7 linked regions of the Homo sapiens genome follow. The protein of the gene in region 1 purifies or fractionates together with the protein of each later gene. This does not show direct contact. Each region holds a gene or a part of one and is shown in the gene's direction. Other genes may lie near its edges. The genes, in order: RBM24, SERPINB5, SERPINB2, TRIM29, MACROH2A1, PLCD1 and EVPL.

Region 1 (3,011 bases):
TACTTAATTAAACATTCTTATTTTATGAACTCATTACAAAATTTTCCAAAGTCTTCATCAATTGAGCACTTGTTAAACCTCTCTTACGTGTGTAGCCCTCATGAATCTTGATTTATTTTCCAAACTCTTGATAAACTGTACTTAGCAGCTCCAAATAATCATACATGACAATTCTAGCAGGGAGGGTGTCATCATATTTTTGGGGTCCAGTTCTTCTGGGGGCACTCTATGACTTTGGCTACTGCCTGAGTATTCTCAATGGACCACTAGAAAGTAGATATTGTGGCAACCCTATGCTCATAATAACCACTAAATTTGAGTTTGTTTTATCTTTGAACAACATGCTACAGTTAGGAGGTGACTACCGCCTGACTTTGTTTTCCATTTCTCAACAGGATACCTGCCCACTATGTCTATCCGCAGGCTTTTGTGCAGCCGGGAGTGGTCATTCCACACGTCCAGCCGACAGCAGCTGCCGCCTCCACCACCCCTTACATTGATTACACTGGAGCTGCATACGCACAATACTCAGCAGCTGCTGCTGCTGCCGCCGCCGCTGCTGCCTATGACCAGTACCCCTATGCAGCCTCTCCAGCTGCTGCAGGATATGTTACTGCTGGGGGCTATGGCTACGCAGTCCAGCAGCCAATCACCGCAGCGGCACCTGGGACAGCTGCCGCCGCCGCTGCAGCAGCTGCTGCCGCTGCAGCATTTGGCCAGTACCAGCCTCAGCAGCTGCAGACAGACCGAATGCAATAGACCAGCCATCTGATCAAAGTTGAATTGTTTTCTCTTTCCCTCCCAATTTTCCAATTTTTAGTAGCTAATAAGAGAGTTAACATTGACTTAACAGCTTTAAAAAAAAAAACAGCCATGCTATTGTGAAGCAGAGTTATTATTTTTTTTATACTCCAGGTAGTGTTCTAGATGAGAAAGAGGTAAGAATGAGGGGAATGGGCACAATTTTGGAAATCAATCCCAAAGAGCCTGAGTAAATGAAAGGCCACTACGAAATGACGCCAGGAGTAACAACGGAACTTCACTTTTGTAACGGGATTTTTATTTTTGCTCTTTTTATAGTATCAGGGAAGCAAACTGCCTTTTACAAGTTAGAAAATGCTGTTTGAATCTAGTTGAACCAGGGAATACAGAGCGAGCAATATGTAGCTTGAATTACATTTAAAAGCAGATTTTTTACAAACAAAATGGCGAAAGCACTGATTGTCATTTTTAGCAGTCACTTAAGGCCTATAGAACTTTTTTCAAGTCGGAAGGTCCTGTTCTTACTATCTCAAAAATGGGCATCGAACAATCAATCTAGGAGCGTGGCAGTGGGTAAAATGGTGGACAGGCACCAAAGCTATTTTCTCATCTGTCCTGTGGATGAGTGGAACTGTGGAACAAGTGATGTGGAATTAATGGGTGCAACAGCTGTACAGACAATCAATAACACACACAGTTCTGGAAAGAACACATCACTTGTGCTTGTTTGATGAGCTTGTCACATTCTAATCCCTCTCCCCATCCTGTTTCAATTTTGGGAAACTTGTATCTGCTGGTGTCAGCAATTCTGATTCTGAAATAGGATCAGGCTTTTACTACAACAGCCTTCTCTTTCTATTTATTGTGTCGACTCGTGGCTTATGAATAAAGGCAGGCAAAGTTTGCAGAACTGTCTTAAGGACATTTATTTTTTTTCCCTTTTTAAGTAATTTTACACTTTAGTATCTATTTCAGAGTCATATTTAAAACTATTTATTAGTGACTACAGTACATGAGACAACAAGGTTACTGAGATTACAATTCTTCAAAGGTTAATGATAATGTGGTTTATACTGTGCCTTAATAGTAATGCTATTTAAGATATTTATTTTTAAGTTTTACTATGCTGCACTCTAAAGAAAGGAACTTTAGATGTGACACTGTAAAATTATGTATTCATCTCATGGCATAAATTATTTAGTAAGTCTAGATGTAGCGTATTAAATATTAACCTATTCAACTAAAGATGTTGACTTGGATTTATTTAAATTCATATGTGCACTGTATAAGAGAGTACTCTTACATTAACACATTTTAGTTTAGTTTTTAGATTTTTTTTTAAACGATATATTGCTAGTTTCATGCTTCCTCCTCTGATTTTGCCTGTGTAGATTTCATTTATTGGTAATTCATTAGTTTAACACTATTATGTAGTTTTTAAATGCTGCTTTACATTTTTCTTCTGAAACTGCAATACTTGCAATTTTTATTCTTAAACTAAATTGAATACTATTTTACACTGTATTGGATTTTTATACTTGAACAATTTCATACAAGGGAAGACAGGTTAGCATTTTTATGGACTTTCTCCATTATCACTGGATTTACTTTAAGTATTCCCATACTAGACAGTGTTATGTAATGTAGACATGACTCTCCTGTGCAAATTATTTATTCGTTGTGTATATTGCTTTATAACATTTCAGATCTTCTAATCTATTCACTTGTATTAAATATAATTTTTAAAAACTTCTGTTGCATTGGCTGTTTCTAATTCTGTAGTAAAGGTCAATGATTTCTCTTTTGAACTTGAATCAATAGCCATGATTGATACGTAACATTTTCAGTGAGCATAATACTCTCTTGGATGTCCTGGTTTTGTGCCTTTAAAGTAAGTTTCACTAACTGAATATCTACCTTATACTTAGCAAATGATATAGGTCATCCCCTGTCCCACCAGGGGAGCCCTAAAGGACTTCGTATCACTGAAAACTGGTTAGCTGAAAGATGGCTTGGAAGGCGTGGGCCAGTAGTAGAGAGGACTAGTCAGAAGTGGGACCAGCCCAGTGGTGCTCGGGTCAGCTAAACTCAGGTTTGAGCTGGACTCCCCACTTTTCAGCAATGTTAGTGAAGCCAATTGCTCTTCGTAATTCACCTTTTTTTTTTTTTTTTTTTTTGAGACAGAGTCTTGCTCTGTCACCCAGTCTGGAGTGCAGTGGCACGACCTCGGCTCACTGCAAGCTCCGCCT
Region 2 (3,500 bases), on another chromosome or scaffold:
GGTTTTCTAGCACTTCTCACAAAGCACCACAAACCAGGCAGCTTAAAGCAACAGAAGCTTTATTCACCCACAGGCTTGGAGGCCAGTACTTTGAAATGACGATGTCGGCAGGGTCATGCTGTCTCAAAAGGCTCCAGGGGAGAATGTTCCATGACTTTCTCTTGGTTTCTGGTGTTGCCAGCAGTTCTTAGCATTCTTTGGCTTGTGGAAGCATCCCTCCAATCTCTGCCTCCATTGCCATACGGCATGCCCTTCACACAGGTGAAGACATTTGTGTCTTCACATCTTCCCTCTGTGTATGTCTGTTTCTGTGTCTCTCCTCTTATTCCTTTAAGGACACCAGTCATATCGGATTAGGGCTCACCTAACTCCAATGTAACTTCATCTTAACTAATTATATATTAGTTAAGAAATAGGACATACCCTGTTTCCACGTAAGGTCACATTCACAGGTAATGGGGATTAGGACTTAACATATCTTTTTGGGGGACACAATTCAACCCATTACACTTACTAAATATTAAACTGAACAATGCAAAACTGCTGCAATTCGACTGTTTTTGTTTTATAAAAGTTTTAACTTTGTAGTTTAACTGAAATCCTAATGGAAACAATATGTGATAAATAAAACCAACTGATGTTGATTAGTGCTGTCAACTTTTCTGACATATGCTGGAGAAGAGATGTGACCACTGGGCTCCCGACAATGGCCACTGTGGCTGAGCAGGCCCAAGACTGCAGAGTCTAGGCAGAGCTGGACACACAGAGGACCTCACATGCCTTCAGACATTTGCCTGGAAGTTTCTTCACAACTGATCTTACTTTTGAATTTACAGAAAGTTCCTTGTTTCTTCTGAGATCAATTACTTTGTTTAAATAGAATTCTTATAGTGTTGGCAGAATGCAGTTGAGAAGACGTTAAAGATGCTTTAGAAACTAACTGCTCCCTTGTCCTTGCTTCCAGGCCCGCAATGGATGCCCTGCAACTAGCAAATTCGGCTTTTGCCGTTGATCTGTTCAAACAACTATGTGAAAAGGAGCCACTGGGCAATGTCCTCTTCTCTCCAATCTGTCTCTCCACCTCTCTGTCACTTGCTCAAGTGGGTGCTAAAGGTGACACTGCAAATGAAATTGGACAGGTAAGCCCCAAAACCTTGTTTCTACTTTAAGTGGGAATACAGTTATTAGAACCCATAGGCAGTGCCTACGGAAAAAAGGAATGTAGACTTTGTGGCCAGAATTGGTCAAGATTCAGAACTGTGCCATTCCAGGACTCTCTTAATCTTTTTTTTTTTTTTTTTTTTTTGTGAGACAGGGTCCCACTCTGTCACCCATGCTGGAGTGCAGTGGTGCGATGTTGGCTCACTGCAGCCTCCAGGTTCAAGCGATTGTTGTGCCTCAGCCTGCCGAGTAGCTGGGATGACAGGCGCGTGCCACAACGCCAGGCAAATTTTTGTATTTTTAGTAGAGACAGGGTTTCACCATGTGGCCAGGCTGGTCTCGAACTCCTGACTTCAGGTGATCCGCCTGCCTCGGCCTCCCAAAATGCTGGGATTACAGGCATCTTAATTTATTTTTAAATGTGAAAGCTCGCTTGTAGGTAATGCAACTCACATCTGGGACAGGCACCAGGCTGTGATGGAGAACCTGGAGATCTGCTGGGTAATCACAGCTTTTTCATTCTGACTTATAATATTTTCAATTTACAATGGTTTTATTGAGATGTAACCTCATCATAAATCAAGCAGCATCTGTATCGTTTTAGGGTTTCTTTCTGGCTATGGTTGATTATCTAGCTTTGTAAAGTTCTTAGACCTTCAAATGAGACAATTTTCCTGATTGTTCCGTTTTAAGTCCTCATGTACTTTTACATAATAGGTGAATGTTCTTCTAATTCTATTTCATTATTACTCTTATGCTAATCATTCTAGGTTCAATAGAATTTCTTTTCTATTAGCTCATAAGCATTTAAAAAGGCAACACCTTCTTGTATTCATATGTGTCCAGAAAGTATGGCCCATAAGAGTTATTTAGGTAAGGATGAAGAATTTACACTTGGGACTTGAAGCAGCTTCACTCCTGTGAAGAGGAGATGTATCTTGACATCAAGCCACATCTCTGAACTGCGCAACTCCACTATCCCTACCCAATCTCCCATTCCTCATTTCTCATCTACCATTAGAGAAAGGCCAGCGAAAGAGAACTTCCGGGTAGTGGGTCTGTTCCTCAGTAATTCCTCAAGCTCTTCTCAGTATATGCAACTGGTTCCCCAGCAGTAGTTACCTGGGCTCTTAAATTTTCTGGTCTCCTTCATCCATCTTTAGGCATGAGAGTTATGCACTGTCTGGGACCAGCATTTGACCCTGCAATGCTGAGGCTATGTAATTCATTGGGACAATGTGCCGGTTTGGCAGCGTTCGTTATCTGGGTTGTGGAATCACAGCATGGCCATTATGAGTTATGGAGCGAGGAGGGTGTCATCTTATGCTGACATTACATGTTGTGGTGTTGCAAGGCAGAAAAGATGCTGGACTATTGGTTGGAACAATAAAAAAAAAAAAGGAAAAAAATACAATGATTTAAGCCCTCCAAATGATAGTATCCTGGTTTTAAATGGCTTACAATATTATTACAAGAATAATTAACAGTTTGAATCCATATAATATTTTACGTGTTTTACATATAAGTAATCCTCATTAACAACTCAGGAAAGCAGGTATTTTCAGCCCATTTTACGGAGAGGAAAGGAGGCTCTGAAGAGTTGGAGAAGATTCTCTGAAGAGTTGGAGAAGAGGTGGTGAAGGCTGGGATTCACAGGCAGGGCCATCTGACTCTAGCCAGCCCAGGGCAGCCCACCATTTATTGTAGCTGCCCATCAGAAATGACACATCTATTTACCTGGCATTTGCTAAAGCACCCAGAGGGACTAGACAGACTCTGGCTAGAGGCACTTGTCCTGAAATCTGATTCCTGCCTGATGATGGTGTCTCTTGTATCAATCTCTCTCTCTGGTCTTTGAATTGGATAGAAATTATAACCCAGCTTCATCGTTCTCCAAGTTTGGAAATCCTTCTGTGTGAGTATTAAGGGCATCACTTTGAAGAAAGGACAAATGTTCTCGATGGTTGATTTGGAAGAGTACCTTTATGGTAGTGTTTCTCAGTGGGGACAATTTGTCCTCCCCTTCCCACTCTGGGATAATCTGGCAATGTCTGGAGACATTCTGGGTTCTCACAAATAGGAGGAGGATGCCACTGGCATCTAGTAGGTCAGCGATGCTGCTAAGCATCCTGCAGTGCCCAGGACAGCCCCACAAAGACTCATCCAGCCTGAATGTCAATAGTGCTGAGGTTGAGGAGCCTTACTTTACGGGAACTAGGCAGGAGGAGTCTGTATGCCCAAGGACGTTGGTCATTATCACGTGTCCACTTCAGTACAGCACTACTCAGAGGCAATGCTTTTTGGGTAACGGATTTTTCTCTTAACAGGTTCTTCATTTT
Region 3 (3,500 bases), on another chromosome or scaffold:
CTTCTAGTCCTCCCAGTAATGAACACCCCAGTATAGGAAGTCTTTTTTAGTAAGGCTGTGGTATGTGTGGTGCATATAGGGAAGGGGTTCTGGGATAGGGGCTGGGTGAAACTCCAAACCTTCAAACAATGAGTCAAAGTCACTTTAGAAGCAGGAAAGCAGAAAGAAGATTGACCGTCTTACCAGATGCAACAAGGTATGTATGCAGGTGGCATATATTTCAATATGTGTATATCTTCCTGTGTGGCAGTGTGTGTGGTGTGGATGTGTGCGTTGTGCTTGTGGGGGCAGCATAGAAGTTGAGAGCATGATCCTAGGGTCTGCCTATCTGGCTTCAATTCCTACTCCTGTCCCTATATATTGTCATTGTTATTCTATGGAATGCCACAAAGTGTCGCTGCTCATCATACAAAACACTTCATGTATCTCAGGACTGGCTATGTAATTTACAGCGTCTGGTGCACAATGAAAATGTGGGCCTTTTGTTTAAAATTATCAAGAATTTCAAGATGGCGATAGGAGGGCATTTGGCTAAACAAGGGGCTTTTTACGGCTGCACAGGTGGTATGTCCATGAAGCTGTCCCTGACCTGCCTCATGTTGTTCCATGAGGAAGAACAGACAGGGAATCTGTCCCTACACAGAATGCAGCCTGTCCTACTGTTGCTGACCTCACCCAAAATGTTACCTTATGTTTCAGAGCTGTTTTTTTCTTCCTCTCTTTGCTTCTAGATTGAAACAATGGAGGATCTTTGTGTGGCAAACACACTCTTTGCCCTCAATTTATTCAAGCATCTGGCAAAAGCAAGCCCCACCCAGAACCTCTTCCTCTCCCCATGGAGCATCTCGTCCACCATGGCCATGGTCTACATGGGCTCCAGGGGCAGCACCGAAGACCAGATGGCCAAGGTGAGTTTGAGCTGAAGCTCCACATTTGGGCCGAGTAGTTCCTGAATGGAATTGGAGAACTGCTCTTGTTTTATGCTAAAGACATTTTAACTCAGGAGGTCAGCAATCATCACAGGTAATGAAGCACTGATCCTTACAACACAAATTCCTTAGATTCAAATCTATAAGACAGCCAAGCCCCCGAATCCCTCAACTGTAGCTGTTGAAGGCATATGGGAGTTGAATAGCCTGCAAGGCTGGACACAGTTATGAGTGACCACATCTTATATTTTAATAATATAATATTCTTATTTTTCAAAGTTAGTGTTTTGTACCCATTATCTCATTCAGTTTTAAGACAGATATCATTTTACAGATGAGAGCCCTGGTGGTGTCAGAGAAGCCCCCACTGTCTCCTAACTCCTAGCCTGGGCTCCTTCCCATTACTGTGCCACTGTGGTGTTTGTTCCCTATTCCTATGAAGAATTCCTTCTAATAATGTTAAGAGAGTATCACAAAGGGAAAAAAAAAAAAACATACCAGGGTGGTGCTCACTATACCCACAGGATGCATGGATAGTGTTGTAGCTGCAGAAGATCATGCCTGTGAGGTCACGGTAGCAGAATGAGACCTGGCATTATTATGGCCAGCCCTGAAAACCAAGGTAGATGGGATGCACAACATCATTGTGAGGGATTTCTGCAAGGCCACTGCCTGCCTTCCTTGGTGAATGGACGTGGACTCAGTCAGGAAACTCTTTCCACGGAGTCTGGGCCCTTGAAATTATGCCGGACTACTTCAATTATACACTGCAATCGTTACTGTAATAGTCACTCAGCACATACAAAATTCTTGTGATCATGTTACTTCCAAGGTTAGTGACCTCGATGTGGCCATGATATCATTAAAATTCCTTTGCATTCACACATACAAACATTAACATTAAATGCTTTAAGGACACGCATGCATTGTGCATGCAGTCACACCAAGATGCCGCCGGCTGGTTTCCAGTTTCCCACGAGAATGTACCTGAGTGTAAATACATTCTTTCCATGCACATGGTGACCCATGTAAGGTGGGCCTCATTTGAAGTTTGAAGTTTCACAGAGAGAGCATTGGCCAATATTGCTGCAGGAAGACAAGGGATGGGTGAATCAATCTCTGTGTTTGTGACAGTTTAAACATTGAGACTTACAACAAAACTCAATTGCTCAACTCCCTGACACAAGTAGTCTTTTGCAATATTCTTTCCCCATTATTTTTTATTTTTTGCCTTGAAAGAATAAAGATAGTAAATTGGCACAAAAGCTTTAGAAACATCAGGTCTTAGGTTTTTTTCTTTTTTCCTTTCTTTTTTTTGAGATGGAGTCTCGCCCTATCACCCAGGCTGGAGTGCAGTGGTGCGATCTTGGCTCACTACAACCTCCAACTCCCAGGTTCAAGCCATTCTCCTGCCTCAGCCTCCCGAGTAGCTGGGATTACAGGCGCCTGCCACGATGCCCATCTAATTTTTGTATTAGTAGAGATGGGGTTTCACCATTTTGGCCAGGCTGGTCTCAAACTCCTGACCTTGTGATCCACCTGCCTCGGCCTCCCAAAGTGCTGGGATTATAGGCGTGAGCCAGTGCACCCGGCCTAGGTTTTTTTGTTTTTTAAATGTAAAGGAATCAGTAGCAATATATTTTGGGAGCAAATGCTAAATGAAGTGCTCTGGGTTGTTAAAGTAAAAATCTTGATTTTGGTACTAGAGGAAAATAAACTGATTGCTCTGGACACAAGACAGCTTTTCTGTGTCTAAGAAGTGCTTTAAGCCTTTGGGACTATGCGAGGATTCTATATAGTCTTTTTTTTTTTGAGACTCTATATATATCGTCTTTTGACAACTCTGTTGCATGTGTAGATTTTGAAATTCAAATGTTAATATGATTGCTTCCCAGATAAAAAGAAAAAGACATTTATTGGCTGGAGAAAGCAGCACAGACTTTGGGGACAGACGTATCTGTGTTTGAGTCATGGCTTTGTTCCTTACTACATGTGTGTGAGGACATTGAAACCATTTGCATCTCAGTTTTCTCATCTACAAAATGGGAATAAAAATGTGTAGCATGCAAGAAAGTTGTGAAGATTAGAGGTACTATGTAAGGCACTTAGTAGCAGTTGCTATAATAACAACCAATACTTATTAGTGCCTTAGCCAGGCATCTTTCTAAGAACTTCTTATAAATTTACTCACATAAGACAAAATATTATGAGGTAGGTACGATGATTACCGTACTCATTTTACAGATGAGGGAATCAGGGCAAGAAGAGGCCACACAGTTGAGAATTGCTGTAGCTGTTAGAAGTGGTACATTTGTAGTGAAAGAAAAGAATACATAAAAGATATAAGCTCCTGGATGGCATAGGTCTGTGGGAATTAGGATATAAGCTCTTTTCCTTACAGTGAGGCAACAGACCCATCCAGGCCAAACTGCCTCACTATTTTCTCTGTGGCCTTTGTGTGGACTAGGGGCAGCTCACAGTCCCACTTTTGCAGGGACATCTCCCTGAGTGACTTTAACACTGATTCAGGAAGGCTTTAGTGCTAGCCCAAAGAACCCTGATTTAAGGGTC
Region 4 (3,500 bases), on another chromosome or scaffold:
TTCTGCCCACAAGACTCCCCAGCCACCAAATACACACCATTTCTTCTCTACTTATGCCATTTTGGCTAAATGTATGTCTGCCATGGTTTGGGTAATTGCAAACCACAATCTGAAATCACTGCCTGCTTGACCCTGACTACATACACAGCCAGCATACACATTCATTTTCTGAATACACATTTCTACATATACATTCATTTTCTGAATAATGTTTGGTTCTGGTTAGGGTTTCAGGGAGCATATTGTGACCCATGGGAGAACTTTGGGGCCCACAGGGAATGATGGCTCATATCAACCCACCAAGAGGAAGGAGCCACAGGTAGATAAGAAGCGTGGACTGTGAACAAACCTGGCTATCTCTGTCAGTAGGTGGCATCCCTCAGTGATGCCTTTGAATGAGATTCTTGGCCAAATAGGCTTGCCAGGTTGGGGCAGTGGGAATGCCCTGATCCTGTGCTGGAAACCTAAAGACATACCCGACTAGGGTGATTTCTTTCCCTAACTAAAGCCCTGCCTAATCTCTTCCCTGACTCTGGACCTCCAGAGCTTCACCACCAATGAGAAGGCCATCCTGGAGCAGAACTTCCGGGACCTGGTGCGGGACCTGGAGAAGCAAAAGGAGGAAGTGAGGGCTGCGCTGGAGCAGCGGGAGCAGGATGCTGTGGACCAAGTGAAGGTGATCATGGATGCTCTGGATGAGAGAGCCAAGGTGCTGCATGAGGACAAGCAGACCCGGGAGCAGCTGCATAGCATCAGCGACTCTGTGTTGTTTCTGCAGGTAACAAGCCACTCCTCTGTCACTCAAGCCCTCGATTTCACAATCCACTTTTTGAGACCCCCCTCCAACATCCATCCATCCACCTATCCACTTATCCACCTATTCGTCTATCTGTTCATCCACCATCCAGCCATCCAACCATCCATCCATTCATCCATCTATCCAAGCGCCATTCTCTCTGTTTAATTTTTTAAATCCAATCCATTTCTTTACCTACTCTCAAGATGGCAAACAAATATCACCTTTTACCAACTTCAATTGATATGTGCTAGCAGTGCTCTGGGCTCAGTAGGAAAGAGTTGTGAGATCAGTGAATCGGGTAGAGGGGGAGTGGTGTAGGAGTGCTGCATATTTGTTATCTTGGATCTAGTCCGTTTGTCTATTCATCCATTCATCCTTCCATCTGCTAGAGTGTTTTAGATACTACTGCATGCCCAGTACTCTATTAGGTGCTGTGGCGAATAGAGAAGTACAAGACATGGTTTCTGCCTCCAAGCAACTGCAATCCAGCTGGGAAGATAAGACATGTACAATTAAAGAACAATATAGAAAAGTGTGTAATTAAATGATAAAGCATATGGCTCAGGAGATAAGTGCCTGTAGAAGCTCAGAGAAGGGCAGGTGGGCTGGAGGAAGCTAAGACAGCTTTGTGGAGGAGGTGGAGTTTGAACTGGGTCTTGGAGGCCGGTTAGGATTTGAGAGGGAGGACAGAGTCTTCGGTGAGGAGTAAGGGAAATGAGAAGTGCAAAGGCAGCACTGAGCATGGCGTGTAAAAGTTGAAATACCACTGTGGGCTGGGCATGGTGGCTCACGCCTGTAATCCCAGCACTTTGGGAGGCCAAGGTAGGTGGATCACCTGAGATCAGGAGTTCAAGACCAGCCTGGCCAACATGATGAAACCCCATCTCTACTAAAAATACAAAAAAAAATTAGCTAGGCATGGTGTCACACACCTGTAATCCCAGCTACTTGAGAGGCTGAGGCAGGAGAATTGCTTGAACCCAAAAGACGGAGGTTGCAGTGAGCTGAGATTCAGCCTGGGTAACAGAGTGAGACTCGCCTCAAAAAAAAAAAAAAGAAAGAAAGAAATACCACCATGGCTGACCCCAAATTCTATAGTAATTCCTTGCATTTCTTTAGTGTGTTCACTCCCAGTCTTTGCAGTTTGTGTCCCTCTCATAAACCCTATGAGGTAAACAGATGCACCCACTTTAGAGGTGGGAGTCGTGGAGTCACACATCTGAACGCTAGTGCCATCAGGGATGTTAGCATCCAGTGGCTTTTAGTTGAACCTTTTCATGTTACAGAAGAAACAAACATCCAGTGAGGAAGAGTGGGGCTTGCAGCGCTGAGACCCCCAGCTGCACTGTGAGAGCCCCTGGCAGAGAAGCGTCCTCATAGCTCATGAAGACCCAGGCAGTTAATGGTTCTTTCCTTTCTTGGTAGGAATTTGGTGCATTGATGAGCAATTACTCTCTCCCCCCACCCCTGCCCACCTATCATGTCCTGCTGGAGGGGGAGGGCCTGGGACAGTCACTAGGCAACTTCAAGGACGACCTGCTCAATGTATGCATGCGCCACGTTGAGAAGATGTGCAAGGCGGACCTGAGCCGTAACTTCATTGAGAGGAACCACATGGAGAACGGTAGGTCCCCTCTCGTGGCTGGGCCCCAAGGCCATAGACCTTTCTCTCCCAAATCAATTCCTGCTGCCTGACATGGGCTGGCCTCCAGTGAGCTTCTTCTCATTGTTCCCACCCACCCACCCACCCTTCCTCAGGCCGTTTGGACTAGGATACAGGGATTCTAACCCTCCTCCTCCTTTGAACTTGCTGCCAAAGTTATGCAACTATAGGAAGAGACCTCCAGAGCAGGGACATCCTGGGCACTGGCTCCACAAATGCCTCCTCTCTGTGGGTTGTCCATCAAACTCAGAGACTGGTTTCGTTCAGATCTACATCTAATTGCCGGGCCCAGCCCAGCAGCTGTGTGGATGCTGCCACTAGTATGGGCCAGATTCCAAACTGGTGGCTTTGCAGACTCTAGCAGACGTGACCTAGAACTGCAGCCATGCCTGGAGGGAGGACTTGCCTGTCATCATGGCCATGCTGAGCAGTGCTGAGCCCAGAGGCTGGACTTGGCCTGTTGAGCTGGGCTGGGGACGGTGGGACACAGTGTCTCTGTGACTCACCAGCTCCCTTGAAGTCAGCTCTTCTTCTGAGTCATGCTGTCCCCTCAGAGGTCAACTGAATCATCTCACAGAAAACCTCTGAACCTGAGAAACAACATCGTCAAGTCCTTTTCCACCCAGTCCCTTTAGGGCCTGAAGCCTGGGCACTTTCCCCAAGGCCCCACCCGGTGTCCCAGGCGTTGCACGGGGCCTTGAGAGTACAGCCTTGTTAATGACTGCTAGACGTGAATACCCCAAAGGAAAGGACCCCTGATTGCTCTCCAGACACAGCATATGATTCTTTGGGGGAGGAGAAGGGGGTGAGGGGGATAAAAGTGTGCAGAAGGGTTGGGGTTCAGGAGGCCATTTGTGCACCTTGGCGATGGCAATATCACATGGTGTCCCTGTGAAATGTGGGGGACATTCAATCACACACAAGGACAGATAAGCCATTTCAGCAAGACAATCATTTGGCTTCAAACGGCACTCAGATCCCGAAATCCTCCTTCTAATGACAATAGTGATGATGCTAATGGTGATGGTGACAGCTGAC
Region 5 (3,500 bases), on another chromosome or scaffold:
CTTAATTGCCATTGGCCTCACAGTCACTCTCCCCCTTGTCATGGGTGCCTGACTGGAGCTACCCACACCTGCATAAACCTCTGAAGAGCAGGATGGACCTGGCACATTCATGGGTTTATCTGGAGACTGCACAACTATGAGTTGGTTTTCAAAAGGGTGTTTTGAAAACCACCACACATTGCTGGATGTCATAAGGCTTCATGGCTTAGTCAGAATTCTTTCATAGCTGTGGCTGCAGCTTGGGGAACTATAGTTAGAAGTGCAGGAAGAACATGGGGAGGGATAAAGTACAGAATCTCTGCAAGACAACCCCATTGGTGGGGAGACAGACTTGAGGCCGCTTTATTGGACAGGAGCCTGACTCAGAATGAGAAGTGAAGATGTTCTTCTGCCAGCAGGGTGGCACTGGAGGAGCTGTGATATTTCAGACCTTTCTTGGGATGAGTTGACTACAGTGCTTCACATCGAATGGCTTGCAGTTCAGTCAAGTTGGAGAGGCATGTGCTGGGATATATATACTATGGGAACATGGAGCAGTGAGCAATTCCAGGCTGTGGTCATGTCCACAAAGCCTCCATGGCAGAGGGAGGCTGTGAGTGTCAGTTCAGCAAGTTGACAAGAGGACAAAGGGCATTCCAGGCAGGAGAACTGCGTGTTCAGAGACATCCTTAACACAGTGTGACAGGCTCAAGAAGTCAGGGGTGGCCTGAGGCATGTGAGCCAGGGCTGGGGTGACAGGAAGCAGTGCCACCAAAAGTAGCTGAAGTATGCTGTTTGTGGCTAGCTCAGAAGCTCAGGCTGACAGGGAATCATCAGAGTAGGCAGAGCTGCTTCTGGTGTCCATGGATGAAGACTGGTGCGGTTGAGAATAGGTCAGAAGTAAAGAGGCTGAACCAACGCAGGGAGGGTGATGAGAAGAGGCCTGAGAGGTTCTGCAGGCGGTTCAGCAGAGCTTGGCTAATGCTTGGGTGCTGTGGGGTGGACAGAGAAGTCTGGGCCAGGTTCACTGCTGTTTGGCTAGTTTGGTGCATGACATTGCCACTGATGAGGCTGAGAGACCCAGAGGAGTTCAAGGCACCCATGGGACTTGTAAGTGGGCCCTTGCCATCAGCAGTCAGAACAGAGCTCTGAGGCTCAGCGGCCAGGTGTTGCACTGGCATAGAGACCTGGGAGTCACTGGCATGTTGATGTAAAGACTCAGCTAGAGTCAGAGGAGGGAAAGACAAGGAGCACCACTTTTAAGGAGTCAGCGTGTCTAGGACCTGCCAGGTCTCTGAGTGCTAACGGATCCTTTCTGGAGGAGACCACTGTCCAGTTCCCACATAGGCAGCCCCAGACATGCCCAGCAGGTCAGCTGGGAAACAAAGCTGAAGTCTGTGCTCTAGTAGGAAAAGGGCTGAGCTGCTGTTAATCATCACTGACCACAGGCCTCCCCTGCTGAAAGGGGGAGACATTCCGATTTAAAAGCTCAGTCCAAAGGCATCAGGTTGTTGGTCTGTGAAACACATTTGTAGTAAAGCAAAAGACTGCTAGGAAACCCAATGACAGCCTTGCCTGAAAACACAGGCACACATACATATACACATATCATTTCCTGCTCAGAGTGAGCACAGGCACCTTTTTGCAAGGAATGTTTTAAAATGGAGTTCATTGCAGCAAGGAAGGGATCCAACTAATTGTTTTGGAAAAACCCAGACCCTTCTGGGTCTCTCTAGCCCTCAGTGAGCAGTTAAGACTGGGTGCTCCTTGACAGGGCGCTCATGACAGAGGCCTTTACTCTTCTAACATCACTCCAGAGCCAGGGCCTCTGCCATCTTACCTCTGTTGGGCCTGTCTACACAGTAGCCCCAGAGTGCCCAGAATTCTGTTTTCTGTCCTCACAGCCATCTCTGTGGCTCATCCCAGATGATTTGAGATGCACCTGGGATTAGAGAGGTGTTAAGTGTGGACCGTGGCATGTCCTGACAATGTCCCTAGTATAGGTTGAGCATCAGAGTAACAGGGACTCCTATCCCTGTGGCCTCCAGTGGTCACAGCATTGACTGCTGGTGCTGGAAGGCCCCAAACACCATGGAGTGTGACGTCAGTTTATCAGTACATGGGAGACCTGCCCAGTTGGTTCAGTGAGCAAACATGTTCATAGGGAAGACTTTAGGGGGCCCCAGAACAGGCCAAGGCCCCTCATATCCCCTCTCCCAGCACCCTGCACTGGCCCTTTGAAGCATGCATTACGTTTATCTTTTAAATGACTAGGGGGTTATTTATTGTCTTTTTCCCCACCAGTTCCACAGGGACCACATCTGCCCAGCATAATACCTGAAGTGAATGCATAAATGAACAGGATGCTCCAAGTAAACATTCGAGACCTTGGATGGTGCTACAGTAGGAATACAGTTAGGGGCACCCCTCCACCCACCTGCAGTCTGATGGGAGAATGGGCACACGTGCATCAATGCTGTGGTGTGCAGCACATGGGGCCCTGAGGATGAAACAGCCAGATCTCAACATTTGGGAGGGCTGGCAGAAGGCAGAGGCAAGTGTGAGAGATAATGGAGGTCCCAGCCAAAGGGAACAGCTACTGCCCAGGCAGGGAGAAAAGAAGTGGAAGGGTATTTGGGGGGAACCTTGTGTGGCTCCCTGTTTGCTAGTTTAGACCACAGGTGGCCCAAGGCAAAGCTGGACATGTGTGCCAGGCCTAGATTTCTAGGGCATTACATGGCAGGCCAAGAGTCCTGGTTCTATCATGAGAATTGTGGCAGCCACAGAAAGCTTTCAGGCCAGGGCCGGGGCATGTTCAGGTGGGTGTGTACCCAGATTGCCCCACCCATGGGGTAGAGGGTGGATTAGAGGAGAGGGGGCTCTGGTAGGGAGACCTTTTCAGGAGACATTTGTGACCACTTGATTAAAATAGTGATGACCAGGATCCCATCACTGGAGGTGGAGAGAAAGAGCCCCACAAGAGGTGTAGAGGAGGGTTTTCCTCTGGACTGGGTGACTGGATGGGGATTGGGAGCAAGGAAGGAAAAAACACCTCTCTCTCTCTTCTCTAAAGATTGGCCCATCTGGTGGACTAGAAGTGCTCAGAGGGCCTCTTACTGCAACCTGACTATACACTGTACTGACTCCTGTAAGCTGTTCTTGCCTCTCACAGATAAAGAATCTAAAATAGAGACACTGCTTTCATCAGAGAATCTAGGTATCTGCCTTTACATCATCTTTTTAGGGGAGGGTGTCATAGCTGTTTTTCTTTTATGAAGCCTTTGGTAAGTTTATCAGCCCCAGTCTCAAGTGTATGAAAATGCAATTATTAAACAAGTGTATAGAATGTGGCCAAGAAATCCCATTTCCTTTTTCATCATGTGGCATAATGGCAAGGCACTTAAGTAAAATTGATGTCATGGTATAAATTGTGCAAAGCCAAGCCTTTCTTTTCAGGGATCAAACTGCTCCAGCGGAGTGCATCACCTGGACCCGGAGGGCCCTGCAGCTACAGACAGTGG
Region 6 (3,953 bases), on another chromosome or scaffold:
GTGAAGCCCCGTCTGTGGAGAGGGGGCATGCAGAGCAGGGGGCTCTCCAAAGCCCAGAAGTCCTGATCCACTTTTAACCCCCAGAACCAGAAGACTGTCCTTCAGCTGTTTCACATCCCTTATTCAAGGCCACCTAGGGCCCAGAAGAGGAGGGATTGGGGTGAGCCCAGCCCCCTCCCCGCAGAGCTGGTCCAACTAGCTTTGCCTGACTCTCACATTGGCCTTATCAGCCCAGGAGGCCTGGGTGGCTTCCTGGGAGGCCCTCTGGGGGCTCTCTGACACCAAGAGCCCAGTTTTCCCAAGGGACTCTCCAAAGGGGTGGTGGGCAACAGGATCTAGGGACCCTCCCAGGGTCTGTGGTGGGAGGGGTCTCTGGGCAACCTATAAAGGGGGTTTTCTGGGTCCCAAGAGTTAGGGGGTGGGTCTGCATAGGGACCTTGCCCAGACAGCCCCTTGGGAGGCCACCTGAAGAAGGGACCCTGGGGATCCTCCCCCTCGGCTGCATGGATCGCTGGGGTTTTGGGATATGAGTGGCTCAAAAGTGAAATCCGTGCACCTGCTTGCTTCCCCCTCCCACACCCCCAACACTCCACCAAAGGCACTCTTGGGGTTAGAAACCTCCCAGCGAGAGGGAAGGGGACCCTCCTCCCGACAAGGTCCAGGTATTGCTCTCTGAAGACCTTCTAATCGTGTCCGTGCACCCATTTCGCAGAAGGGAATGCGAACGCTGGGAGCTGCGGCTGGAAGCCTGGACGCCGCGTCTCCCTAGCGCAGCAGCCCGGCTGGGCGTCGGACCTTACACGATCCCTTCCCCGGGATGACGCCGGATTCTTTCCAGCATCACCCCGACCCCAGCGAGGCGCCCACAACAGGGCGTGGGGCCCGGCCGCCCGCGGTAATGACAGGGCCCGCGGCCCGTGGGTGGCGGCGGCGGAGGAAGCTGGAGGAATCTGGCTATTTCTGGTCGGGGCGCGCCCGCTGGCCCGGGCCAGGGTTGGCCAGTCCTCCGGGCCCCCAGCTCTGCCCTCCCTCTCGCGTCCCCAGAAGGGGGCGGGGAGAGACGAGGGTTGGCGGGCTCAGGGGGCGGGGGCGCAGGGCAGCGGGGGCGGGGCGGTGTCCCGGGACCACCCCCGGCCTCCTCCCACCGCGGTCCATTCAGGTCCCTGCACCGCACTCCGCTCGGACCCCAGGCCGCCGGTGCTGTCGCTACTCAAGTGAGTCCCGCGGTGCCCCTCCCGCCGCGCCGCCCGTCGGGCATGGACTCGGGCCGGGACTTCCTGACCCTGCACGGTGAGTGCCTGGCCCGCGCGAGCGGGAGACCCTGCAGGGGTGGACCCCTGGAAAGCTGTTCCGGGCCCTGGACAGGGAGCCCCCAGCTCCTTCGGCCGCCTCCACACCACCCCGGGCCCGCCTCTCTGCCCCTTCTCCGGACTGGGAAAATCTCAGCCCGCGGCTCCCTGGGTGGGACTGCCGGGCACGACCCTGGGCGTTTCCAGGCTTGTCCGAGATCTAGCCCGGGGGGTGGGTGGGCGGGCGGTACGGGTCTAAAGACTTCCCTCCGCCTCGCGGACCCCCTTGTCCTGGTCATGAAAGTCTGGGCTCCACGATCCCGCTCGCACGGAGGGGCGGCGAAGGAAGGAAACAGCATCCAAGAACGACCAAAATTCTCCTTGCCCCATCCGGGCCGCCCCAGAGGCTCCCCAAAGCCTGGGCGTGCCTGGACCGCGTCAGGCCGCGCGGGTGTGGCGGAGCAGGGGCTAAGCGGGTGGGGAGAGGAGGTGTGCAAGGTTAACCGTGGTCGGGCCGTGCAGCCTTAACTGCCCAGCGCAGAATAGTCAGCGATGCTCAGGCTGAAAGAAGCAGCACGATCCCCTCATCTGCGACCCTCCTCGGGGGACAGGGCCAGGTCTCAGCCGGAGCTGCCTGCTCCATCCTTTGTCCAGCGGAGCTTTGTTTCCTCCAATATGAGCCAGCTCTTTGCCCTTTCGCTGTCCCTCCAGCAGCGAGGGGAGCCTGGGCTCCCGAAGGCAGATCTGGAGGCCTTCTGGGAGGCGGGAGGTTGGGGAGGGTAACTTTGGGCGCCTCTTTGCTCCAGGACAGGCACTCACTCACTCTTGGTGGGGGCTTGCCCTCCTGCCCTCCCAGGTCACTTGCCATCTCAGCAAACCCTGCTCCTTTCATACCAATCACTGCTTTACTGTATATCCCTCTCTTTTTTAGTACCCTTGGGGTTGGAGGCTTTAGTGGCCACCACCCATCCATCTAAACTGTTCATGGACATAATAGATGGGAAAGAGAAGGGCAGAGTCCTCTAGCCTTCCACTAGAGTCCCCCTGGAATTTAGAGGGACTTAGAGATGTTCCCATCAGCCAGCCTCCAGTCTATCTCGTGTTCTGCAGTTGGCACAGACCTGGTCCTCCTGGCCCAGAGAGACCTTGCTCTGTGCCCAGAGCTGTTGCTTTTACACCAATAGCCTAGGCTCCTTAAAGCCACCTTGTCTAGATGAGTCATGGAGTCCCTGCCCCTTCCAGTGCTCCCTCTTCTTTCTTCAGGCCAGAGGTGTCTTTCGTGCGCCTGCCAGACTAGCAAGAAGGGAGGCTGGGCAGCTGAGAGGACACAGTGGACATCTCTGCTTTCTCTCTGACACAGCGTCATTCCTTGGCTCCTGTTGGAACAGGCTTCATCCTCAGTGTCTGTGCCTTTGTCCAGTTTCTCTCCTGAGGCAGCCTTGATATCTTTTCCATGGAGGAAGACACATGGAGGCTCAGTCAGGACCTCCCAGTCCTGTGGCATAGGCTTGGCTGCCCTGGCCCACCCCATTTGAGACCAGCCTCCCAAATGCCTAACTCAGTCCAGCCTTTCCTGAAGGGTTGACATGAACACTGTGACCCCAAGCTGTTTTCCCTGAAGGCCCTGCCACTTCTAGCTCATCACCCAAAATTACCTCAACTGCCTTCTGTCCACACTGCAAACCAGATGGGGAAATAAGAACCTGTCAAGGAGAATTGTTGGTGGGAGGGGGTGATCACTGTGCCCTGTGCTGTTCCAGGTTGTCTACACTTGCATTGGAGAGTCTGCATCCGTTTCACAGTGTGGGTGCCCCAGCACTGGATGTGCTGCAGGACCACACTCTCTGGCCTAGGGCTCCACACTCTCTGGAAGGAGCCCAGAGGGACTCCTTCTGTTGGCCTGGGGAGCTATGCGGCTCACCTAGATGTGACATGTCCCTTCTGTCCTCACCCCAGATGCATGCAGAAGTAATGTAGTTTACTGGCATAGATTCTGAAAGCAAAGTACCTGAGTTCAAGTCTTGGCTTTCTCATCTCAGATGAATCCCTTGACTTCCCTGTGTGTCAGTTTCCTCATCTGTAAAATGGGGGATAATACCATCTACCTCATAGGGTTGCTACGAAGATTGAATGAGATAATATCTACACAGCAGTTAGAACAGTGCCTGGTACCCAGTGAGTACTATGTTCCTGCAGGAGGCCCCCTCCCCAAATTTCTATGCCCTATGAGTTGCCATCTGTAGTTCTTTGGGAGATGATGGGGGCATCATAAGGTAGTTCCTAGTCATGGAAAATAGGGCCAGAACTAGATTCAAGAGCGAGCCAGCCAGCTCTTTCTAGTGCCTCTGAAGCCCTCAGACTGATGCGACAGCATCCATCCTCCTTCCTTCACCTTACTTCTTCCACTCTTTATTCTGGCTATGCCTGGACTGGCTTCTCTAGCAGGTCCCCCGATGTGCCCCAAAGGACATTACCTCCCAGGGCCCTCCCCTCACTGAACACCCCCCACATACACACTAACTTTTCCTACACCCAATCCCTTTTGCCCCCACCCCTGCAAGAGGTGCCGTTTGTAAAAACAGAAAATAGAGGGGCCTCATCTTGGCCCCAGTAGACCTGGGCTCCAGTCCTAGCTTTGGTTCTACTTACTGTGGGTCTGAGAAT
Region 7 (3,500 bases), on another chromosome or scaffold:
GGCAGTGCTAACACCCCCAACCAGGACTAGCTCACAGAGCCTTCTGCAGAGAGAGACCCCAAAGTCAGGGCAGTGAGCTAGGCTGTGGGGGCAGGATGGGGTGGAGGGAGGGCAGGGGATGCCACCTGGATGGGGCACAGAGGGGCCTCTTCCACCGAGCTACCCGCTGTCCCCTCCACACACTAGGGCTGCCACCCAGGAGCTGGCCCTTCTCATCTCCCGCATGCAAGCCAACGCCGACCAGGTGGAGCGGGACATCCTGGAGACGCAGAAGAGGCTGCAGCAGGTGAGGCCCCGGCAGCAGTTGGCAGGGCGTGGACAGGCTGGGTGGCATGGGAGGCCCATCATCAGGCCTGGCACTCCCTGAGTGCCCCTTGGTGATGGTGAAGATGGGACAGATGACCTTTGTCCTGCACCGCCCATCCCCTAACACACGGTGGGAGAGAGGGCTCAGCTTCCTTCTTTTCTGGGCTCCCCTGTGTCCTTGTCACCTGCCCCACGGACGCCCTGGTCCTGACCCTGTGCCTGGCGTGGGCCTCAAGGTTGGCTAGCATAGCTGGGGTCCCAAAGTTGGGGCTCAGGCCCACAGTGATGGGCAGCAGGGGTGTGGGGGCTCTGGGCCCTGGCCAGTCTGCCCATCTCCTGCCCACAGGACCGGCTGAACAGTGAGCAGAGCCAGGCCCTGCAGCACCAGCAGGAGACGGGCCGCAGCCTGAAGGAGGCTGAGGTGCTGCTCAAGGACCTCTTCCTGGACGTGGACAAGGCCCGGCGGCTCAAGCACCCGCAGGCTGAGGAGATTGAGAAGGAGTGAGTGGAGCTGCGGCAGGGCTGGGGGTCCCTGGGGAAGACCCAGGTCCAGCCCTGACCTGCCGGCCACCTTCTTGACAGCATCAAGCAGCTGCACGAGCGGGTGACCCAGGAGTGTGCGGAGTACCGTGCCCTGTACGAGAAGATGGTGCTGCCCCCCGACGTGGGACCCAGGGTCGACTGGGCACGCGTGCTGGAGCAGAAACAGGTCAGGAACTCAAAGTCACACCCCAGTGTGATCAGAGGGCGATACGGAACTGCATTTAATCCAGGGCCTGACTGCAGGCTTGAATAGTCAGGGTGTAGGGGTGGCTCAGGGGTCTGGGCAGAGAGACAGCAGAGTAGACAGTGCAGTCAGGGAAGACTTCCTGCAGGAGGAGGTACATGAAGAGACCTCAGAGGGGTGAGAGGGCTCAGTTGGGCCAGGGTGAAGTAGTGAGGAGAGGACAATTCCAGAAAGAAGGAGCAAAGGTTCCTGCCAGGAGGAAGCCTGGGCTTCGACGGGAAGTGGGGATTTCTGGGCAGGTGGGCAGAGCCAGGTCATGGGACATTCTGATCCCTGGTTGAGGAGTTGTGCTTTGATGCCACACAGAAGGGGTGTCATCATGACAATAGAGGGACAGTGGGGAAGGGCCCGGCTGGAGCAGGGCATTCTGAGGGCCCTAGAGCTTGGCTGGTGGTGTCCAGGCAGGAAGCACTGAGGCTGGGTCACAGACAAGGCAGGATGGAGCTGGAGACTTCTTAGAGGCTGAGCCCAGCGTCTGGGAACCAGTGGGACTCAGGGGCCACTGCAGAATGGCCTCGCCCCTGGGGGAGCTGCAGGGCATGCACCCGGGCTGCTCCCAGGCTCGTCCACGCTCTGCCCAAATGACCAAGTCCACTTCTCCGGGTGGGAGGCGTGTGGGGTTCTCTGGCTCCCCACCGCGGTCCTTTGGGGACTGAGCCGCCGGCTCTCCTGCAGAAGCAGGTCTGCGCAGGCCAGTACGGGCCGGGCATGGCGGAGCTGGAGCAACAGATCGCCGAGCACAACATCCTGCAGAAGGAGATCGACGCCTATGGGCAGCAGCTGCGGAGCCTCGTGGGGCCGGTAGGTGAGCCTGGAGGATGTCACATCCGGGGCCAGCCCCAGCCCGTTTCTCCAGTCAGAGCCGGAGCTAGATCGGCTGGGCCCTGGGGATAGGGGTGGGTGGGGTATGGCTGGCCCAGATCTTAGGGGGCCGTCTCCCTGCACCCCACCTCTCACGGGCTTGTTTCTCCCCTTGGTCGAGGCAGGATGCAGCCACCATCCGGAGCCAATACCGAGACCTACTGGTGAGCAGGAGGGAGGGTCGGGCAGGGAGGCTGCGGGTGGGCCTGGGTGGCCGCCCGGACCCTGCCCGGGGCCAGTGTTCCTGAGCGCGGCCCAATGGCGCCTTTTGCCCCCCACTTTCTGTCTCCCCACCCTGCTGCTGGCGGCGGGTCCTGAGCACAGAAGGCGGCGTCGTGGCGCGGGCAGAGCCTGGGCAGCCTGTACACGCACCTCCAGGGCTGCACGCGGCAGCTGAGCGCCCTGGCTGAGCAGCAGCGCCGCATCCTGCAGCAGGACTGGAGCGACCTCATGGCCGACCCTGCGGGCGTGCGGCGGGAGTACGAGGTCGGCTGGCAGAGGTCGGGGCCAGGTGGGGGCGGCCAGGGCCATCCGGGTCCTCACCGCCGCTCCCCACCCGACTCGCCCCCAGCACTTCAAGCAGCACGAGCTGCTGAGCCAGGAGCAGAGCGTGAACCAGCTGGAGGACGACGGCGAGCGCATGGTGGAGCTGCGGCACCCCGCGGTGGGGCCCATCCAGGTGCGCTGGGGCAGGGCGAGAGTGAGAAGGGACGTGGTGGGCGGGGAAGGGGGGAGGTGGGGCGGACGTGGGGGGGGCGTGGTCCGAGGGCTCCATGCTGCCGTACCCAGGCCCACCAGGAGGCCCTGAAGATGGAGTGGCAGAACTTCCTGAACCTGTGTATCTGCCAGGAGACCCAGCTGCAGCACGTGGAGGACTACCGCCGGGTGAGCCCTCGGGCAGGCGGCAGGGGCGGCAGGGGCGGCAGGGGCGGCAGGGGCGGGAGCACAGCACCCCTGCCCACAGGAGAGGCACTGCACCTCCCAACTAGACAGAGCTGGCAGGGCGCGGTGGCTCACACCTGTAATCCCAGCACTTTGGGAGGCCGAGGCTGGTGGATCACTTGAGGTCAGGAGTTCGAGATCAGCCTGGCCAACATGGTGAAACCCTGTCTCTACTAAAAATACCAAAATTAGCCAGATGTGGTGGCACGCGCCTGTAATCCGAGCTACTCAGGAGGCTGAGGCAGGAGAATCGCTTGAACCCAGGAGGCGGAGGTTGCAGTGGGCCGAGATTGGTCCACTGCACTCCAGCCTGGGTGACAGAGAGAGACTCCACCTCAAAAATAAAATAAAATAGAGCTGTGTGGTTGCCACTCGGTCCCAGAGGGAAAGAAAGGCATGGGCACATTCTCAACAGGGTGAAGCGGTTCCCAGGGGGGTGAAAATTGGTTCTTACTGGCAGAAAAATATCTTAACTCTTTTTATGCATGAAGTCCAGATCCACATACAGCACCTAAGCTGTATACAGCATATCTGTGGTATTAAAATTTCGTGGGGGCCAGGTGTGGTGGCTCACATCTGTAATTCCAGCACTTTGGGAAGCCGA

What was found.
Region 2: the proteins of RBM24 (region 1) and SERPINB5 purify together in Homo sapiens (affinity purification with mass spectrometry; 3 studies listed by BioGRID and IntAct, with this or other methods). This does not show direct contact.
Region 3: the proteins of RBM24 (region 1) and SERPINB2 purify together in Homo sapiens (affinity purification with mass spectrometry; 3 studies listed by BioGRID and IntAct, with this or other methods). This does not show direct contact.
Region 4: the proteins of RBM24 (region 1) and TRIM29 purify together in Homo sapiens (affinity purification with mass spectrometry; 3 studies listed by BioGRID and IntAct, with this or other methods). This does not show direct contact.
Region 5: the proteins of RBM24 (region 1) and MACROH2A1 purify together in Homo sapiens (affinity purification with mass spectrometry; 2 studies listed by BioGRID and IntAct, with this or other methods). This does not show direct contact.
Region 6: the proteins of RBM24 (region 1) and PLCD1 purify together in Homo sapiens (affinity purification with mass spectrometry; 3 studies listed by BioGRID and IntAct, with this or other methods). This does not show direct contact.
Region 7: the proteins of RBM24 (region 1) and EVPL purify together in Homo sapiens (affinity purification with mass spectrometry; 3 studies listed by BioGRID and IntAct, with this or other methods). This does not show direct contact.

What each region holds. Positions count from the first base shown.
Region 1 is NC_000006.12:17,291,361-17,294,371, forward strand, and holds the end of RBM24 (RNA-binding protein 24), read left to right. Parts: intron 1-395; coding exon 396-759; coding exon of another isoform or gene 760-772; 3' UTR 773-2,511; downstream 2,512-3,011. UniProt on the Homo sapiens protein: Multifunctional RNA-binding protein involved in the regulation of pre-mRNA splicing, mRNA stability and mRNA translation important for cell fate decision and differentiation. Plays a major role in pre-mRNA alternative splicing regulation.
Region 2 is NC_000018.10:63,483,458-63,486,957, forward strand, and holds part of SERPINB5 (serpin B5), read left to right. Parts: intron 1-964; 5' UTR 965-971; coding exon 972-1,139; intron 1,140-3,488; coding exon 3,489-3,500. UniProt on the Homo sapiens protein: Tumor suppressor. It blocks the growth, invasion, and metastatic properties of mammary tumors.
Region 3 is NC_000018.10:63,890,705-63,894,204, forward strand, and holds part of SERPINB2 (plasminogen activator inhibitor 2), read left to right. Parts: exon of another isoform or gene 1-196; intron 197-731; 5' UTR 732-740; coding exon 741-908; intron 909-1,916; exon of another isoform or gene 1,917-2,015; intron 2,016-3,500. UniProt on the Homo sapiens protein: Inhibits urokinase-type plasminogen activator. The monocyte derived PAI-2 is distinct from the endothelial cell-derived PAI-1.
Region 4 is NC_000011.10:120,124,614-120,128,113, reverse strand, and holds part of TRIM29 (tripartite motif-containing protein 29), read left to right. Parts: intron 1-544; coding exon 545-778; intron 779-2,224; coding exon 2,225-2,423; intron 2,424-3,500.
Region 5 is NC_000005.10:135,389,232-135,392,731, reverse strand, and holds part of MACROH2A1 (core histone macro-H2A.1), read left to right. Parts: intron 1-3,500. UniProt on the Homo sapiens protein: Variant histone H2A which replaces conventional H2A in a subset of nucleosomes where it represses transcription. Nucleosomes wrap and compact DNA into chromatin, limiting DNA accessibility to the cellular machineries which require DNA as a template.
Region 6 is NC_000003.12:38,026,843-38,030,795, reverse strand, and holds the start of PLCD1 (1-phosphatidylinositol 4,5-bisphosphate phosphodiesterase delta-1), read left to right. Parts: upstream 1-1,153; 5' UTR 1,154-1,256; coding exon 1,257-1,290; intron 1,291-3,953. UniProt on the Homo sapiens protein: The production of the second messenger molecules diacylglycerol (DAG) and inositol 1,4,5-trisphosphate (IP3) is mediated by activated phosphatidylinositol-specific phospholipase C enzymes. Essential for trophoblast and placental development.
Region 7 is NC_000017.11:76,020,807-76,024,306, reverse strand, and holds part of EVPL (envoplakin), read left to right. Parts: intron 1-186; coding exon 187-286; intron 287-652; coding exon 653-807; intron 808-888; coding exon 889-1,015; intron 1,016-1,768; coding exon 1,769-1,894; intron 1,895-2,079; coding exon 2,080-2,118; intron 2,119-2,278; coding exon 2,279-2,440; intron 2,441-2,525; coding exon 2,526-2,633; intron 2,634-2,743; coding exon 2,744-2,839; intron 2,840-3,500. UniProt on the Homo sapiens protein: Component of the cornified envelope of keratinocytes. May link the cornified envelope to desmosomes and intermediate filaments.